Homo sapiens: one gene and its partners. The protein of the gene in region 4 purifies or fractionates together with the protein of the main gene of each other region. This does not show direct contact. Each region holds a gene or a part of one and is shown on either strand. Other genes may lie near its edges.

Evidence for each region. The genes of interacting proteins can lie anywhere in the genome.
Region 1: the proteins of NOL10 (region 4) and NOL6 fractionate together in Homo sapiens (co-fractionation; one large-scale study listed by BioGRID). This does not show direct contact.
Region 2: the proteins of NOL10 (region 4) and ZNF644 purify together in Homo sapiens (affinity purification with mass spectrometry; one large-scale study listed by BioGRID and IntAct). This does not show direct contact.
Region 3: the proteins of NOL10 (region 4) and SRI purify together in Homo sapiens (affinity purification with mass spectrometry; one large-scale study listed by BioGRID and IntAct). This does not show direct contact.

What each region holds. Positions count from the first base shown.
Region 1 is NC_000009.12:33,463,925-33,467,424, reverse strand, and holds part of NOL6 (nucleolar protein 6), read left to right. Parts: coding exon 1-31; intron 32-162; coding exon 163-311; intron 312-437; coding exon 438-513; intron 514-715; coding exon 716-856; intron 857-999; coding exon 1,000-1,117; intron 1,118-1,199; coding exon 1,200-1,354; intron 1,355-1,527; coding exon 1,528-1,691; intron 1,692-2,065; coding exon 2,066-2,218; intron 2,219-2,448; coding exon 2,449-2,546; intron 2,547-3,263; coding exon 3,264-3,388; intron 3,389-3,500. UniProt on the Homo sapiens protein: Part of the small subunit (SSU) processome, first precursor of the small eukaryotic ribosomal subunit.
Region 2 is NC_000001.11:90,980,536-90,984,035, reverse strand, and holds part of ZNF644 (zinc finger protein 644), read left to right. Parts: intron 1-1,665; 5' UTR 1,666-1,682; coding exon 1,683-1,726; intron 1,727-3,500.
Region 3 is NC_000007.14:88,213,539-88,217,038, reverse strand, and holds part of SRI (sorcin), read left to right. Parts: intron 1-281; exon of another isoform or gene 282-379; intron 380-454; exon of another isoform or gene 455-596; intron 597-2,102; exon of another isoform or gene 2,103-2,463; intron 2,464-3,500. UniProt on the Homo sapiens protein: Calcium-binding protein that modulates excitation-contraction coupling in the heart. Contributes to calcium homeostasis in the heart sarcoplasmic reticulum. Modulates the activity of RYR2 calcium channels.
Region 4 is NC_000002.12:10,592,476-10,595,975, forward strand, and holds part of NOL10 (nucleolar protein 10), read right to left. Parts: intron 1-3,500.

The sequences.
Region 1 (3,500 bases), on a different chromosome or scaffold from region 4:
TGAGCTGGGTCCAGAGGCAGACCAGCCTGAGGTGGGGGACCCCAGCATGTACACTGGAAGGAATGGGGTGGCTCGTCCTCATGGCACCTGGACTGAAGCTTGTTGGGGAGGGTCCACAGAGCCCTTCCTTCCCCAGCTCTACTACCACCCTTGCCTCCTCAGGCTGCTAAATTCCGCCAGTTCTGGGGATCCCGCTCGGAGCTTCGGCGTTTCCAGGACGGAGCCATTCGGGAAGCTGTGGTCTGGGAGGCAGCCTCTATGTCCCAGAAGCGCCTTATTCCCCACCAGGTGGTCACCCACCTCTTGGCACTGTGAGTGTTGGCATCTGGATTCCAGAAGGCAGTGTGGGCTGGGGAGCCTTTTCAGGGGTCTGGCCCAGGCAGTTGAGCGAGAACATAGCCCCAAATTTTCTCACTGTGTCTCTGCCTCTTTTTCAGCCATGCTGACATCCCAGAAACCTGTGTCCACTATGTGGGGGGCCCCCTGGATGCACTTATCCAAGGCCTGAAAGAGGTAAGGGTCTTGGGGTCAAGGCTAGTGATTGTAGAGTAATCAATCTGCGGGGAGAGAGTCCTCTCAGCCTTGGCCAGCTTGCACTTCCTGGCATGTCCAGCAGGCGGCGGTGCTGGCTCTGCTGCAGCCTGAGCTGGGGCAGAATCCAGGTGAAGCTGGCCTTCTGTAGGGTCCAGCCTCCTGACCGTCTTCTCCCTCTCAGACCTCCAGCACAGGTGAGGAGGCCCTGGTAGCGGCGGTACGTTGCTACGACGACCTCAGTCGCCTACTGTGGGGGCTAGAGGGTCTCCCACTGACCGTGTCTGCTGTTCAGGGAGCTCACCCAGTGCTGCGCTACACAGAGGTGAGGTGCAACGGTGCAGGTGACCTTTCTGCTTAGTGGCCCCACCTCTGCTCCAGTCACCCAGTATTCCCCACTTCCAACTCCTGACTCTGGGCACTCCCTCCCAGTCCTAGGCCCATTCCTCAGCCCCTCTTCTTCCACAGGTGTTCCCACCAACTCCAGTCCGTCCAGCCTTCTCCTTCTATGAGACTCTGCGGGAGCGGTCCTCACTGCTGCCCCGGCTCGATAAGCCCTGTCCGGCCTACGTGGAGCCCATGACCGGTAAGAGGGCCCTTGGGAGGGAGTGGGAGGGATAGTTCCAGCTCCAGGCCACAGTATGAGACCTCTGACTCTTCTTCCTCAGTGGTTTGTCACCTGGAGGGCAGTGGCCAGTGGCCACAGGACGCTGAGGCCGTGCAGCGGGTCCGAGCTGCCTTCCAGCTGCGCCTGGCAGAGCTGTTGACACAACAGCATGGTCTGCAGTGCCGTGCCACTGCCACGCACACGGATGTCCTTAAGGTTAGGCTGGTGCAGGCAGATATGTCCCCAGGGAAGGGGGGCACCAGGGATGTCAGGGCGTGGAAGAAGACACCCCTGTGGGTACCACGCTGGGTAATAGGGCTGTAGGCCACAGAGTACTCCCGGGGTTCTGGGCTGACACATCCTTCTCTTTCCATACCTTCTTCCAACAGGATGGATTTGTGTTTCGGATTCGCGTGGCCTATCAGCGGGAGCCCCAGATCCTGAAGGAGGTGCAGAGCCCAGAGGGGATGATCTCGCTGAGGGACACAGCTGCCTCCCTCCGCCTTGAGAGAGACACAAGGCAGTTGCCACTGCTCACCAGTGCCCTGCACGGGTAAGGCCACTGACACAGCTTCTTCCTGTCTGTAGGCCCCCTCCTGCCCCCATTCTCCTCACCTAGCCACCTGTCTCTCCAGGGGCCAGATGGTATCATAGTTAGGGGTATGAGTTCTGGAGTCAGGCAGGTTCTGGAATCCTGGCTCTGCCACTTACTGACTGTGACCCTATGGTCAGATTTTCCTCCTTGGTCCCTATATTTGTCATCTGTAAAATGGAAATAACACTAGGGTCAACTTCTTGGTGCATTTCTTAAGAGAATATGAGATTACATATGTAACCTATTATCACTGAGGCTGGCCTTGGGTAGGGGCTGGATGAACAGTGGCAGTGGGGCCCTGAGTCTCGCTGACACTCCCCTTCTCTCTGCAGACTGCAGCAGCAGCACCCAGCCTTCTCTGGTGTGGCACGGCTGGCCAAGCGGTGGGTGCGTGCCCAGCTTCTTGGTGAGGGTTTCGCTGATGAGAGCCTGGATCTGGTGGCCGCTGCCCTTTTCCTGCACCCTGAGCCCTTCACCCCTCCGAGGTGATTCCCTCCACTTTTTCCCCAGCTGAGAAGTTTCCTTGCGGCCAGCCATCATCCTTCGTGCTGCACCCTAAGTCTACATGGGAATGGGTGGTTGAGCAAGTGGCAGAAGGGGTTCTAAGATGCCCTGCCCTGCCAATCCACACCAGGGGGTCTGAGCTCCATAGCCTGAGAGAAGCCTGGGGATATGTGGCTGGGCCCTGGATTCTTTGCTTACTCCAGCCCTTTAGTTCCCCCCAGGTTGGCTTCCTTCGATTCCTTTTCTTGGTATCAACGTTTGATTGGAAGAACAACCCCCTCTTTGTCAACCTCAATAATGAGCTCACTGGTAAGTGGTAGAACAGGGGTCAGACTGCTGGAAGAACAGCTCTTTATGGATTGCAGGCAAGGGTTTCCCTGGCAGTGTTAGGTTTTCTCTGTGCCTCCCCAGCCCCAGATGTCTAAGCCTGACATGAAGAAGAGGTCCAGGTGAACAGCCTGACCATTATGACATGGTTTGCTCTTAATTGTCAGAGACAGAATGATAGGGTGGTAAGCAAGCTACCTGGCGGGGGGCTGTGGAAGGAAGAGGAGAATAGAAGGGGGATCCTGAATACCACGTAAGAAGTATTAGGGCACGGAGCTAGGAAGTGTAGCACAGATACTCAGACCTCTTGGTGGGGGTGGGAGTGGTGATTTCTGGTTGTAACGTGAGGCACTCGGTCTCTGCAGAGAGCAGGGTGTCAGGTTCCTAATTCCCCAGGTGTGTGGAAGCCCATGGTGGGAGGGGGCCAGGGGCAAGACTCAGCTTGTGCAGGCCCGGAAACCAGACTGGGGGTGCCAAGCAGTGGAAAATTTTGCCTCTGGGCTGAGGTTGGGCGATTAATGCCCCACCCAGTTGAGGCAAATGCGATGTCCCTTTCGTCACCTTTGCCACTTGGTGGGGGGGAGTGTTGAAAAATACCTGTGATGAGCAGCCGTTGGGGGCACCGTAGGAGGACCTGGGGGAGTAGAGGGTGTCTTACAGGGAGGAGCAGGCTGACCCAGGACCCATTCTTGTCTCTAGTGGAGGAGCAGGTGGAGATCCGCAGTGGCTTCCTGGCAGCTCGGGCACAGCTCCCCGTCATGGTCATTGTTACCCCCCAAGACCGCAAAAACTCTGTGTGGACACAGGATGGACCCTCAGCCCAGGTTCAACCCCATACCTGCCCCCTAATGTGTGGTTTTCTTCCCAAGGAAAAAGCAGGCCCAGCCTGACCTGGGAGAGACCCACTTCAGTTCCAGTCTGATGTGTCTGTACCCC
Region 2 (3,500 bases), on a different chromosome or scaffold from region 4:
GATACTGGTGGGTGCTGGCATTCCTGGCTATGGCCCATGTCCTTCCAGTCTACGAAAGCAGCATTTTCAGTTCTCTCTGCCATGTCTTCTTCTTCTTCCTCTTTTTTGGAGACAGAGTCTTGCTCTGTTGCCTAGGCTGGATGCAGCGACGTGATCTTGGCTCATTGCAACCTCCGCTTCCTGAGTTCAAGCAAGATTATCCTGCCTCAGCCTCCTGAGTAGTTGGGACTACGGGCGCGTGCCACCACGCCCAGCTAACTTTTGTATTTTTAGTAGAGACGGGGTTTCACCATGTTGGCCAGGCTGGTTTCGAACTCCTGACCTCAGGTGATCTGCCCACCTTGGCCTCCCAAAGTGCTGGGATTACAGGTGTGAGCCACTGTGCCCGGCCTCTCCGCTTGTCTTCTCATTGCCTTCAGTGTGTGTCTCGTTCTTATAAGGATACATGTGATTGCACTGTGGTCCACCCAGATAATTCGGAATAATCCTCCCTCTCAAGATCCTTAATTTAATCATATCTACAAAGACTTCTTCTTTTTTTTTTTTTTTTTTTTGCCATATGAGGTAACATTGTCAGATTTCAGGGATCAGGGTGTGGAAGTCTTTTGTGGGGCAATAGTTCAGCTTATCCCACTCAGTCGTTTATAATAGACTTTTAATGTTCTTACTTTTATTTTATAGTTTAGTTTTTAACAGGCCCCCATGTCCACTTCTGGGTTGGTGGGAGATGATGGCATTGGGTGGCAGAGAAAATATCTCATCTTTTCTAGATACGATGCAGAAAATTCTAGGTCTGTGGTTCTAGGAAGGACAAATCAGAGATGATAGTTTGGAAATAAAACAGTTAAAGTAACCTAGCTTGAGAACAGAGGTAGGTGTGGTGGTGCTATTTTTTAAAGAATAGAGAATTTAGAAGAGTCACAAGCTAGTTTCAGGTATGGGGAGGAGGAGATATGTAGAGTGTGGGACATACTGAGTTTTCAGAAGTTCTGAAATATGGTAAAATTAGTAATGGTGGATATATTTTTGGCAAATGCATGTTCAGTGGATTGTTGGTGTAGAAGTCACTTTATACTAGATTAAAGATTAAATTGAAGATGGGGAGTATTGATACATTCTATTCTCTAGAATAATGATGCTTGGCATTTAGTAAGTAATCAGTGTTGGCTATTATGATAATTACTGTGGTTGCTCTAACAAATTACTTTGTTATATACTTTTATGTGTATATACTTTTATGTGTTCCAATACTATAACATTTTTGTCTTCAGCTGTTTGGTGTGTGTCTTGATATGTACATAATATTAAATAAATACTGATCTAGAAAGATGTGTGTTTTAGTAATTATTTTAATTATTGCCATTGCCATACTATTAAAATTAATGAAAACAATTTAGAATTTTTTTTAAAAAAAAGAATTAGTTTCAATTTCTCATTTGAATAGATTATTATTTCTCAAAAAAAGCAGTGAGGTTGGGGGGCACTTAGCAATAGTTTCCTAAAGATTAAAATGATGGTATTCTGGTTGAATGGTTTTTTTATGTTATATCAAGAAATATAATTTGGTTTGTGTTTTTTCATTTAAAATAATAGTGTATTGTAGCTATGGTTATTCATGCCTGAAACAAAAAATTAAACCTTGGTCATTGTGTGTATTTCTTTCAGGTTTGATTTAATTTTGGATGAGATCGTTCTTGCAGCAAGATGTTAATAAGACAAAATCTAGGTAAGTAGAAGACTGCTTTGTTAAATGTACATATCAAGGTAGGAATAATACAAAAAAATTATGTCTTAAAAATGTGGTGTTGAGTTCAGAACCAAAGAGTTTTTAAATAAAATTTTGAAATGCAAATAATTGACTTTTTGACACACTTGGTCCAGTTGATTTGATGGGAGTAAAATTATAACTATCACATTGTGGAACTAAATTTTTAGTTTCCTTCTTTTGTGTTGAGGTTAACTAAAGCATTCAAGTTTCCAGTGAATATTCTAAAATGTTAGAAAATCAAGTTAATGTTTGGTTCAGCCACTCTTATTGAACTCTGACCACTTCAGTAAGACATTTATTGTGTCACTTCATTGTTCTCTCCTTTGTTGATAAAGTATATGAATAGTCATTGCTTTTGTGAATTTTGCTTCATTTTTAATGTTAAGGAAGCACTTTCCCAAATGGGATAAATTTGCCAAATTGTGATTTCTTTCTGTTAATATAGTATTCAAAATTGTAAATTATTGTTTTAATGTTTTCCTAGTGGGTGTCTCTACTGAATGACCTCTCTAATATAGCATTCTGATTAGCTTTCTAAGGCTGTTCACTTTTAAAAAATTGAATTGGCATCATGTACTTTGGTATGTGAAAGAATGCTTTTTAATAATATAAGCCGTTGACATGTTTTAAAAAGATACATTTACTATTTATTGGTAAGTGAATATGGCTTCAAAATGGAAACAAGGGAAAAAGAACATTGAAAAAATTGGAGTTAACTTGGTTTTCCCTCTAACCAGATGTTTCAGCTGTCAAAAATTTGCTGATCTCAATGTTTGTTAAAGAAAAAAAAAGTCTAGGATGAAAAGTGCTGTAGTTCAGTAATATGCACTGAAGGAAATCTCAGTCAGTGGTTTGGGCATGTTTTGAAGCAAAATTTTGCTTTTATTGCTATTATATAATAATAACAGTAGTGGTAGTTTGAAGAGTACTTATTGTGCTCTAAATTCTGTTAAGTGCTTGTCATACCTTATTGATCGTTATAGTACCTCCTCTTGTTGTGTAGAAAAATTTTATTTTTTGCTTTATAGTGGGCTGTTTTTCTTTAGGAATAATAATTTACTTCTGTAGCATTTATTAGAAATAACACTTGCCTATGTATCTTCTTAAAGTGGAGAAGAAGCCATTCTTTTGTACTTGAAGGTCTTATTAGGGTTTGTTTTCTAGTTGAATATACAGTGTCTGTTAAAACTTTTGTTCTGATTTTCTATGTTTGATATTGCTTGTGGGATGACACTGGTTTAACTTATTCTGACCTTATTTTTCACCATGCTTATATATGTAGTTTTTTCTTTTTTATTATGGTATAGTTTACATATATATGGTAACATAAAATTTGAGGTATAGAGCTGAATGACTTTTCACATACACATTCATATGTGTAACCACCATCTAGATCAAGATATAGAACATTTCATTACTTTGGAAAGTTCCTTGTGCTTTCCCCGCTTCCAGTCTAATAGCCTTTTCCCCTGAAGTAATCATCTTTCTGAATTCTGTCAGCATAATTTAGTTTTGCCTGTTCTTGGATTTTATATATAGTATGTACTCTTGTATGTGGCTTTTTCATTCAACATAATGTTCTTGAGCTTCATCTATGTTGTGACTATGTCAGCAGTTCATTATTTTTTATTGCTGTTTTATTTTTAGTAATATTCCATTGTATGAACACACTACAAAGTATTTATGTTTTCTCAGTGATTTGGTTTATTGGATTCTCCATATCTCTGTTCCT
Region 3 (3,500 bases), on a different chromosome or scaffold from region 4:
AAACTGAGCTTGTCGGATCTAGCAAAGTTTAGAATTCCGAAAGCTAAAATACAGTACTATTTCAAAATGTTGATTTGAAAACAGTTTTTAAATCACTCCAGGCTGGGCACAGTGGCTCACACCTGTAATCCCAGTACTTCAGAGGCCCAGGCAGGAGGATCGCTTGAAGCCAAGAGTTTTTGGCTGCAGTAATCTATGATTGTACCACTGCACTCCAGCCTGAGCAACAGAGCAAGACCTTGTCTTTAAAATAATAATAATAATAAATTATTCCATCCTACCTGCCAATCTAGTGGATTTCTCAGATTTGGGTTTTGTGTACCTAGAACCAGTGAGACAGTTTGGGTGGCCTCCTTCACAGAGGACAAGGTAGGGTGCTGAAATGGAATCTGCCAGGTCAGGGGTCATTAACTGACATTAGGAACTGATATTTACTGTTATTTGCCAAGAGCCTACTCTGCCCTGACCTGGTGGCACTTAGGGCTTTGAGTTGCTGCCCTGCACCCCTGGTCCCTGAGTGGCCTATCCTGCACTCCTGGTCTCTGAGCTTTGGGCATGCTCCTGCTAACATAAGTGGTTGCCATGACATCCCTCAGGTCTTTCCTCTTCCACTTCATAGAATGTATTCAGGCTAAGTGGGAAGTGGCCTTTCTACTTACTGGACCTGCTGCTCCATAATTCAGCCCTTACCCTACCCCTGCCTTTTGAACACTCTGCCATGAGCTGAGAGTAATGAAATACTGCAAAGATGCTCCATCCCTGGCAGGGCACAGTGGCTCACACCTGTAATCCCAGCACTTTAGGAGACTGAGGTGGGAGGATTGCTTGAGCCCGGGAGTTCAAGACTAGCCTGGGCAACATAGTGAAACCTTGTCTCTGCAAAAAATTTAAAAATTAGCCAGGCATGGTGGCATGCACCTGTGGTCCCAGCTACTCAGGAGGCTGAGGTGGGAGGATTATACAAGCCCAGGAGGCGGAGGTTGCAGTGAGCCAAGATTGTGCCACTGCACTCCAGCCTGGGTGACAGCCTGTCTCAGAAAATCCAAAAAATTGCTGCATCCCAACTGGGGGCTTCTCATCATCCAACACATATGAAGTGGTTCCTCTTGAAATTAGATCTTGAACATGATAGATTTCCAGGGTAGAGAATAATGTCTTAGTTCAAATACATTACCAACTTCTTTGCCAGTTGTTAATTGAGACAAAACATCAAATTGAAGACCCAATTTCATGGTTAGCTGTGGATTAAAATGTTCAAACTAGAATTCACAGCTGTGAATTTATAGTGGCCTTTTTTTAAAAACTATTTGACATGGCATGTATTAGATGGCTGTCTTTGAACTCTTTGCATTTGTTTTCATTATCCTTTGTTTTATGTGACTTTAGTATCCTATTACTCTTTCCTAATTAGAGGAATTAATACAAACGAAGAACCTTTCAAGTTCCTGTTATTTAATCTAGTCCTAAACAAAATAAGCACTTTTTGGATTAGGGGATGTTATTCTTTACTGTGTAGGCAGTACATTTAAATTGTTAATTGTTACGCAATTGAGCTGGTAAACAAGGTAGGCCTGCCTATTAGCAGGGTTTATCAAAGTGCAGTGAGATCACAGCATGGCCTGTTATTCTACATCCTTTCAGTAGATGAGGTGTGGCAGATTTTAGAATCTGACTAACAAAATGGGTTGTATATTGTTAGAGAGCAGTCCTTTTAAAATTTCATTGAGAAAGCCACATTTAGTGATGGCCTTAGATCAATGCATTAAAGAGAAAGCATTTCCTGAATCATGGGGCCTATGTGATTGAATCCATTTGCCTACTCTCTGGTGGCCGTACTGAACCACAGAACCATCCTGCCTATGAGGTGTCAGTGTTTTGTAATGCAGATATTATATGGCCATTAGTCTTTTAAACCCAACTTCCAAACCAAAAAGCACAGGTCCGAATTGGATGAGCAGGTGGGATACTCCAGCTCAGAGCCTATGGGCCCTTCTTAACCAGTTTAAAAGGAAGCAGTCATACCTAGAGGTGGAGTTGGTGAGAGAAGTTGTGTTCCAGTCAGTAAGATTGTAATTCAGCTTCTCTTTTTTCCCTGAATTTAGTTGTTCGTCTGTGATAAGGTTGAGAGAAACAGCTGGAGGTAGGGCTTTCCTTCTAGGTCCATTATATTGTATGTTTCTGTGAGAAGAAAAGATGTTTGAGGCATTCTAGTAGAATGAACAGAAGAGAAGAAAAAGAGTAAAGGTAAATTACAGCAGAGATTCTTTGGAAATTATTAAAATTAACATTATTTAATTTAAATAATTTCAAAATGTTGAATTAATAATTTTAATTATAATTTATAGTTATAATTATATGTAGTTACATTTACGTAACTAATATATAATACTTATAATTTTAATTAATTTTAAATAATTATTTAAAATAGAATTAACACTAATAAAAGCTATATTATTAACAAAATTGAGAAAGAGTTTTCCTTACCAAAACTTATTGGACATCAGCGTTCTAGTTCATTGGAACTGTCTAGAATGGTGTATTTTTTGTTCATTCACTTTTGTTCACTGCCATCTCACTGCCCTTTCAGATCCTTCTCACAAAAGATGACCAGATTCCTGATCTTCCTGATCTGTCCCTCTCCTCCTCAGTCTTTACTAACAGCTTAGAAGGAATTCAAGGTCCTCTGTAATGCACCCTCCCCTGACCAAACATATTTTCTCCCACTCCTTTTGTACTCTTTGAAAGTCATATTGAGCTATTCACTTACGCTTTGCCTGTCCTAGGCCTTCTACTTCTCTCTTTGCTTATGCTGGTCCTTAGCTGTCACCAAATGCCCCCATCATTCTTGTCATTCAAGGCTTGGCTTAAATTCTTTGTCTTCTATAAAGTCTTTCTTGATTCTCTTACTGGGAAGGAGCTTCTCACTTCTCAATCCCTTCTGGTACTTTCTGGCCCCTCCATTATAATTCAGCACTCTACCATGATTAGGGTTATATGTGTATGTGACTTATCTTTTCCTTAGACTGTCAGCTAGGACGGTATGCAGTTTCACAACTGTATCTGCAAAGTTCCTGTTACCCTGAGCCCTGAACATAATAAGTACTTAACAGTGGCTGTTGAGTTAATGAATATGGAAAATTTTCTGTGTCAGAAAAATTATAGCCCTGTAGCCTTATTGGCTTTTTGATTTAAGATTATACATTAATTTTTGAGCATTAGTAAAGATTAGAAAATTTTATTCAAAAAACATTCCTTCTTAGACGATCTAAGAGGGTTGTACATATAAAGTGCAGGGCTCTACAGCTTCCTGCGTGGGGGTGAGAATTTGGTGCCATCCATCCATACCAGTGCATTTTTAGTGAATACTTCCTATGAGCTAGGTGCTGGCTCTGTAGCCACAATCAATGCCTGGGTGTTGGGAAAAGCACTGGGATAAGAGAGAGGCTGTGGAATCACATAGAATGGGCACATAACCCAGACAGGAGTCAGGAAAGTTTTCC
Region 4 (3,500 bases):
CGCCATGTCTCAGGAGAAGGGAGGGGGCTATGATGTAAATTTTGGAGTTATCTGTAGATATCGGATAGATGATAGTGTGAAAGATAATTTCAAATGAATAACTATGTGCCTATTACACATTTTCAGGTTAAAAAAACCCAAGGGCAAATATTTACTTTTCATCTTACTATATTTATTAAAGTAATAATCATATTTAATAAATAGAGAAAATGTTACAAAGACTACATATGTTGCTGGTATTAAGATTTTTTTCTTAATTTAAAACAAATCAATTGCATTGCCTAAAGACAAGTATGCTTTGGATGAACAACTATAAAATAAAACCTCTTCTGACCCAGCTTGTAAAAATATTTCCCTCAGGGTTTTTTCCTAGTCTGTTTGTTTTCACAGCTGTCTTAAGGAAAAAAGTAGGATAAGGTATAGCTATTAATGTTCTATAGGAGCTTACAAGTGTCTGGCTAGTGATCCGTCCTATAAATACCCGTCTACACATGCTCAACTTTACCATTAAAATATAGAAAACATTAAAGTACTATTCATACCACAGTCCTACCTGGAAGAATGGTATCTGTCTACCTGAGTGGGACGCCTATTATTATTTTGTTCCAACATAGTAACATATATGAAGAATGATTGCCATTTGAAACAAATTAGTTTTTTTTTTTTTCTTTTTTTTCTTTTGAGATGGGGTCTTGCTCTGTCACGCAGGCTGGAGTGCAGTGGTGTGATCTCGGCTCACTGCAACCTCTGCCTCCCGGGTTCAAGCGATTCTCCTGCCTCAGCCTCCTGGAGTAGCTGGGATTACAGGCACGCGCCACCACGGCCGGCTAATTTTTGTGTTTTTAGTAGAGACGGGGTTTCACCAGTTGGTCAGGCTGGTCTCAAACTTCTGACCTGGTGATTCGCCTGCCTCGGCCTTCCAAAGTGCTGGGATTACAGGCGTGAGCCACTGCACCCCGGCCAATCAAATTAGTTCTTTCAATGCTATGATACCTATGAAGTTAGGCTGGTACAGACTTCTGAGTAAAGATGGTGGCTTGAACACTAGTATCTTCTAATCTCTCCTAAAACTTCACTAGAACAACAGAAAAGGAGCTTTATAAAAAGGGCATAAACCCTTAAGAAAAAAAGGAAAGGAAATAGGGGTAATAAAAATTTGGAAGCCAGAAAGAAAGCCTATTTAAAAATCACACCCCAGCTCTGGAAAGCCTGGCCCCAGCCCTTTCCCACGGAGAAGTTGCTTGGCTGAGGCTGGCACTGCAAGAGCAAGAGAGGTGTGCTGGCCACAAGGAGGGGAGGGCAAGGCTGGCACATGGGGGTGAGGTGCCCTCTGGACCCCTCCAACCTCTTGTGACCTACAGTGGTCAGTTCTAGGAATGCTGGTAGCCAGGCCTTTACCCCCCCAAGCAGGAGGACCTGACCAGCCAAGAGAAAGACCTAAGAGACAATGACATGTGCAGTGTCCTTCCCCAAACAGTGTGGCCAAGTCACTGCACACTGACTGAGGGACCCTGTCCCCACCTAGAGTTTTCATTCAGTTTTTTAACTCTCTTATTCCTCACTGCCAAAAAATAACTATGGATCATGGCAGGAAAAACTAATTGAAATTTTCTTTCAAGAAAATTCCCCAGCACTGAAGACCGAACTTCTAGACTGAGATGGGCTTGCAGCACAGTACAGTCGCTTCGTGTCAGGTTTCCCAGGACGCTTCCTCTTCCTGGGCTTACACTGTTATTTTAGAGAAACAACTCCCCTAGCAACTTCCCGAGGAAAAGCAGCATTTAAGGGGAATTGGTTGTTGTTGAGAACTTGCATGTCTGAAAATATCTACCATACCCTCACATTGACTGACTGCTTGCCTAGGTTGGAAACTATATTCCTTCAGGAAACTGAAGGTTCTTGTAATTCTCTGTCCAACATGGGCTGAGGTGAAGTGAATCCCCAGGATAATGGTAAAGGGAGGTCCCGGGATTAGAAGGTGACCAGGCTAGAATGGAATGGGGCAGAAAATTCTAGAAGCAACTTCTTCAGGAAGGTAAATAAGCATAAGTCTAACCTATCTAAACACCTCAAAATAAGACTTAGAGAACTGACATAGAATTGGGTGTTGATTAGTGATAACTACATAGAAAACGAGCAAGAGAGACAATTATTAACTTCAAAGTACACAAAGATTGAACAAGAAATGCAGTCACAGATTACTACTGACTCGGCTGGAAATAGCACTTACGTAGGCCAGGCATGGTGGCTCGTGCCTGTAATCCCAACACTTTGGGAGGCTGAGGTGGGAGGATCTCTTGAGCTCAGGAGTTGGAGACCAGCCCGGACAACACAGTGAGACCTCAGCTCTACTAAAATATATACATACATATATATTAGCTGGGTGTGGTGTGCACCTGTAATCCCAGCTACTTGAGAGGCTGAGGTGAGAGGATCACTTAAGCCCGAGAGACTGAGGCTGCAGTAAGCTATGATTCTGCCACTGTACTCCAGCCTGGGTAACAGGCTCTATCTCAAAAAACAAAAGTACAACAATGTAATGCTGAATACCAACTTAATCAAAATCACAATATAGCTTCCTTGGAAAGGAAAGTTATCAAAAGATAATGCCTAACACTAAAAAGTTAAGAGGTAGGACTACAGGCAAGAGGGAGGGAGGGGGAGGGGGCAGAGAGAGAGAGAGAGAGAGAGAGAGAGAGAGAGATTTATACCAAAATAATCAGCAAAAAAGGCAAAAGTGGTTGTCTGAGAAGAGGTGAAAATGGAGGAAGGCAGAGGGAGGAAAAGGGGCAGACAATGGGATGGCCTACATTCCTAACAAACCTTGGAGAAATGTTTAGGTTTTTTTTGTTTTTGTTTTTGACAGAGTCTCACTCTGTTACTGGGCTGGAGTGCAGTGGCACAACCATGGCTAACTGCGGCCTTGCAGGGAGATCCTCCCACCTCAGCCTCCTGAGTAGCTGGGACCACAGGCATGCACCACTACACCCAGCTAATGTTTTGTAGAGATGCGGTTTCACCATGTTGCCCAGGCTGGTCTTGAACTCCTGGGCTCAAGTGATCCTCCCTGCCTTGGCCTCCCAAAATGATGGGATTACAGAAATGTTTTTTTGTTTTGTTTTGTTTTTGTTTGTTTGTTTGTTTTTTGAGATGGAGTCTTGCTCTGTTGCCCAGGCTAGAGTGCAATGGCGTGATCTTGGCTCACTGCAACCTCTGCCTCCCAGGTTCAAGCAATTCTCCTGCCTCAGCCTCCCAAGTAGCTGGGATTACAGGTACGCACCACCACACCCAACTAGTTTTTCTATTTTTAGTAGAAATGGGGTTTCACTGTGTTGGCCAGAGTGGTCTCAAACTCCTGGCCTCAAGTGATCTGCCTGCCTTGGCCTCCCGAAGTGCTGGGATTACAGGTGTGAGCCCATAATGTTTGTGTTAGGCACTGTGCCCAGACTGAAATGTTTAGTTTTTAAAACTATGCATGTATAACTGTAATTTAAAAAAAA